2 separate regions of the Homo sapiens genome follow, and region 2 is linked to region 1. Evidence: fine-mapped expression QTL. A gene starts in region 1. The other region holds a variant in brackets. All regions are shown on one strand. Distances are from middle to middle. Region 1 holds the start of MPZL3 (myelin protein zero like 3). Region 2 overlaps MPZL3 (myelin protein zero like 3).

Region 1 (2,500 bases):
AGCTTAAAAACTGGAGACTTATGATGACACAGGCAGCTGGGAGGGATCGGGGGTGTGCTGGCAACATGAATATTAGTCACCAGTTAAAAACTTTCCAGCCTTAACTGCTAAGATTTAGGACATCTGAAGTCTTTATATTAAACTATTTATATTTATATAATATTAAATATCTCTTTCAGAAATCCCCATTACCCTCAAGGAAATTTTATAAATTTAGCAATTCACTCTAATACTAGATATACTAATATTTTATTTCCCAGGAAGACACACATACACAAAATCCAGGAAATAATTGTACCTTAAGATGAAGGTAATTAGGCTGGATTGAAATTTATGCAATTTGAAAATTATATGAAAGCAAAACTCACCTAATTTTAAGATGTGAATGTCAGTGTGAATACCCTACTTCTGATATTACTTAATAAATTTTAACAGAATTTATATGCTCTTTCTTGTATTAAAAAAAGTTATGAAAATGCTAAAGCAGTTACTTTTTCATCGATATGCTTCTCTATAACGAATCACATCACATCCCTTCTGTGACTAGCAAATATTTCATTTTATAGACTACAATAATCACCTACAAAAAATAAAATTACCAACTGTCATGATTTTGTTTCCCAAAACTACTGGGGCAAACTACTGAATGCTAGAACTGTTTTCTTTCTAATCAGGGTATACAGCGCCCAAACGACAGCGGTCAACCACTGATAATAACACCACAAAATAACACCGGGTGCCCCCAAAGCCAGAGCTCTTTGTGGTTCCATCAAGTATGCTATCACCAAACTACAATGACAGGTCACGCAAGGTGAAAAAGCTCCCAAAGCTCAGGAAAGGACTGACAAAATACCAACTATCCTCAACGGGGTGGTGATGACATCGTCCCAACGTCCCGCTCCCTCCCTCCTTCCTTCCCAGAGCTATGCGGGGGCTTTCTGGAGACCCCCCTACCCGGAACCGGAAAAGCGACCATCTTCCCTAACCCCCCGGCCGGAAGTGGAGCGTAGCCAGCCGGAGCACTCACCCTGGAAGAACAGGACGCCCAGCAGAGGGAAGAGAGCGCAGCCACGGCTTCCAGCTGCTCCTCTCTGCTGCATCCCGGCAGCTCTTCAGATGCTTGCACACCTTGTTTACAGCTCCCGGTAACGACACAGGTAACACCGGAAGTGACGTCAGAGCAGGAGGCCGAGAGACAACTTAAATGGCGATCCGAAGTTACCATAGGAACCTGGCTTCTTTCCAGAACCACACCTGGTTTCACTGACCAGAGATTTATTAACTTTCAGGCGGGAGCTAAATGCTCTCTTTTGCTTGAAAATGAAGTAGGCTACGGACTTGGAATAATTACAATTTTGTTTTTATGGAATTCTGCAGAACTAAATAATTTTGATGCTCTGACTGCATGTCAGACATCGTTTTTACGTCTCGAGATTTAGTTGAAGGTTCTCAGAATACACTACTGTAAATTTAGAGTTCAGAAACACCTGGGAGATCATACAGTATAGATAAATATATATTAGGTGCTTGTAGTGATATGTGCCACAAGCCTCATTGGTTGGTGTCCTTTTTAGTGTAAGTATTGCAGCCTCCAAAATTGGGTGTTTATTAAATTACTTTTGGCGGTGGCAATGATGATCAAATCATTACAGCCTGTATTAGAGGAAAAGAGGAACTGGGATTTCTGTGTCTTTGGTTGGAAAAGTAAGAAAGTTATGTTATCACAGTACTTGAAGTGAGATGGCGTCACATACTTCTGAAAAAGAGATGGTACAATAAGTACACTGCTTTAATAATCAGTAAGCCTCTTCCCTGGAAATTGCCACATGTCAATGAAAGCAGGAGGAGAATAAAAGTATGCTTTCGCTTTGGGGAAGAATTAATAAGTTTCCATTTTTCAATTTCCATTCCTTTACTAGACTTGAAAGCCAGTAGTTTTCCCTATTAAAAGTGTAATGCAAAGTACTAAATAGAATCTTTGATACTTTTCTTTGAAAGAGCCCTCAAACTAAGTAGTGTTGTTATGCCCAATTCCCAGCTATCCAAAACAGTGTGAAAATTCTGTGGAAATCCGTATACTTCTGTTTACCCATTAGAAACTAACTGTATCCATTATTGACTTGCAGGTTGTCTCTACTAAGAAAACTTTTTGGTAAAGATTAAATATATATCCATCTGTTTTTCCTGCAATGTAGAACTTCTAGATATGTATATACACAAATTATATAACTGATAATTCTTTATTACTAAAGGTTTATTTACATAGTGTTTAAAGCATAATAAAAAATAAATTACAATACAAAAGTGCTCTTTAGGAAGGAGACACTAAACAACAGGCCCATATTACCCCTTGACTATTTAGCCAAGACATAAGCTACAAATTTTGCCGGAAAAACTGTCCATACATTTTTAACTACTTCTTCATTATTCTTATGGACCATCATCCAGGACATCTGTTTGAAGAAATATCCAGTTATAATATTTTCAAAGGTTAGAATTG
Region 2 (3,040 bases), 26 kb before region 1:
ATTCAACCTACTGAGGTGAACCTCACACTCAGACCTCTTCAGGTGCCATCTCCCCTTTTAGATGACAAGCCCTCTGAGGGTAGGAGCTTGAATGGCACCAGGCAAATAGGTGCTGAGAAAGAAATCCATTTCATGCAAACAAAATACAATAAACGTAATATTAACACAAAACCTTCTGTGTTAAAGATACAGCAACCTCTTTTATTTTTCCTCTCAAAACAGAGGTGCAACCTCGCCAGGCAATCACCCAATCCCTGCTTCCAAAGATACGCCTGCCCAGTCCTCCAACTCACCATGTAGACATGAAAGTTTCCTCTGGCCATGTGATATCAGCATTTCCAGAATACAGGCAGCCATTGATTCCCATAGAGAACCTCTTGGGTGACTTGGACATCCTAGATTAGAACTCAAGGTTTCTTCACTTCAAGATACCTCTCAGTCTTAGTCACCACTTCAAAATAGGTGTTCTCAATGTACGCACCTTCAACCTCGGCTAGATTGGCTTGACCTAGGCATGGGCAGACTCATGGAACTTGTCCTGTATCATCTGAAAAGCTGTTGAACGTTTGCTCCCAAGCACTACGCTGCATGGTCCTTGAGAAGTGATGTGCTAGAGAGCCAGCAATCTCCACAGCATAAATATTCCCATCATAACCTATTTCAAGCTACCAACAGTTTAACAACTGGCTTGCAAAATTCCTAAAAAACTTAATACAGGTTGAGTATCCCTTATCCAATATGCTTGGGACCAGAAATGTTTCAGATTTCATATTTTTTTCAGATTTTAGAATATTTGCCGAATACATACAAGTTGAACGTCCCTAGTCTGAAAATCCAAAATGCTCCAATAAGCATTTCTTTGGAGCATCATGTTGGCACTCAAAGTTACAGATTTTGGAGTTGAAATAGCAACCACTCTTTTGTATTTTCAGATTAGGGGTACTCAGCCTGTAATCAGCTCTTGCTATGTAAGCTGGTTCCAGCACACCACGGAACCTCTGCAGGTTCTTGCGGGGGTACAGCTCCGACATGACTGGTTGCACGATGCTGAAAACCACTGTTAAATCAAGTTTAGCCTAAAGCTGCCTCCTTACATATTTTAAGTTTGGCCTAAAGGTTTCTCTGTACATCATGAACTATAACGTAAATGGAATAGTATACGGACTCTAGTCTACTCTTGTGCCAGTCACTGAGTTTGGCCAATCGAAGATGGCCAATGATTCAAACTATTCAAATAAGGCAAACACCGAGCTGTAACCAATCCGGCTATTTCTGTACCTCACTTCTGTTTCCTGTACAT[G/T]ACTTTCCTTTTGCTGTCCATAAATCTTCCACCACGTGGCTGCGCTGGAGTCTCTGAGTCCACTCTGGCTCAGGAGACTGCCTGATTCATGAATCATTCTGTGCTCAATTAAACTCTTTTAAATTTAATTCAGCTTTTAATACCACAAACCCCCATCTTTTTCACATGACAATTCCCACCTTTTATGTAGATATGCACACACCAAAAGGTAGCCAAAGGGTACAAAGAAGTTTATTGACTATGATGCAGTAAAGATACCAAGAGTTACAATATTTGTGCATATGGCCCAACAGTGCCTACCCTCCTACAAAACAAAAACAAAAACAAAAAAAGGCAATGAGGTGCAGCAGTTAACAGCCCAACACTGGAGTCAAAGGAATGGAGCTGCCTCTTCTGGCAGCAAAGTTTCAAGTTGTGCAATTAAATAATAGTCTTGGTCCACTCCTTGTGGGTCTTCTTACAGTTTCCCTTTAGAACCATAACTGAGTGACTTAGTAGAACATTCATATTCAGGATGTGGCCTCCAGAAGTGTCGTTTTGTTTTGTTTTGAACAAAGACGTGCTACCTTCTCTCTTGAAGCACCAGTGCTGGGTTCAGGAGCTACAGAGGACTAAGATGTTCCCCAAGTAGCCTGAAGTAACAGGTCACATGGAAAACACAAAGCAATTGGTGAGTCCACATTTTGTAATAGAATTAAGAGCGTAATGCATAAAACTTAAAGTCATGTAACCACATGTAAAAACTTCAGCAGCTAAAGAAAAATTCTGGAAGGCTTTTAACCCCTTCTGAACTAAGTTCCCTTTCTAAACGAGGCTGGTTTCCATGGCTGTGACAAGAGCTCATGAGGTAGCAAAAAGAGAGAGAGAATAGCACCTTAGAAGTTACTCAAACAAGAGGTGAAACAAATAAGTAAACAAAAAAAGACCACTTTATCTTCCTTTCATCCTTAAAGAAGGCAGGTGTCTGTACACTGCTTTGTGATCCTTCGAAGAATAAAAAGCTGTAACCCAAATCTCAGTATAAGGGATGAAGAAGGAAAATGATAGCAGCTGATGACTGGGATGCGACCACAAACCCATATAGTAAACTAAGTTATCAACGTACTCCCTTACCACGAAGGACTTCATTCAGTCATTTAAAAAGCAAGGGACTAGTTCAAATCATGATTAAGGCTATAAAAGAACACGACTGAGTATTCACAGAGCACCAATTACCTCAAGTTTAGACTAGGTGTCAATCTACAAACATACTACCCTGCATTAATCTTCACAACACACCTGCGAGGACATTACAAGAAGGCCCAGCCAAAATTAGTTCCTCATTTAATGGGATATGGCTTTCAGTGGGTTCCTGTAACACCATCTCTTTCTTGGAGAAATGAGGACCTGCAAAATAGTCCCCCTCACAATGAGATCTCTATCTTCAAATCTCTGAGAGCCCAAGTTATTTACTCTCATTGCTCAAGTTGCTTTCCTCTCTCTGTTGAGGTGTCAGAAATGGTCACGTTAGATTGGCCTCAGACAACCACAAAAGTTAACAAGCAGTCCCAAAGTACCGTGAGGTTTAACCACTGGAAATGTAAACTGCCGGTCCTGTCTTTGCCCTTCTACTTCCTCGCGTGACCAGAGTCAAATCACAATGTCCTTCAACTAACCAGATTCGCTCATCTGTGGACTAGGTTAACAGAAGAGGCTAGGCCAAATCTATGATACGGATCTAACAACCCAAATTTTTTAAAT

Evidence for each region. PIP is the estimated chance that this variant, and not a neighbour inherited with it, causes the effect.
Region 2: its variant is fine-mapped to the expression of MPZL3 in whole blood (TOPMed, PIP above 0.99).

The regions. Positions count from the first base shown.
Region 1 is chr11:118,251,195-118,253,694 of GRCh38, forward strand. It overlaps MPZL3 (myelin protein zero like 3), which reads right to left and starts at 1,171. Exons shown (of 6, transcript NM_198275.3): 1 at 1,028-1,171. The coding sequence starts at 1,100. MPZL2 (myelin protein zero like 2) reads right to left here. Exons shown (of 6, transcript NM_005797.4): 6 at 2,222-2,500. RefSeq lists enhancers at 491-1,052, 654-703, 1,053-1,613.
Region 2 is chr11:118,225,181-118,228,220 of GRCh38, forward strand. It overlaps MPZL3 (myelin protein zero like 3), which reads right to left. Exons shown (of 6, transcript NM_198275.3): 6 at 1,510-3,040. Among named protein-coding and RNA genes, the nearest start is that of JAML, 1.7 kb to the left of the region's middle. The variant G/T (reference allele first, on the strand shown) is at 1,301.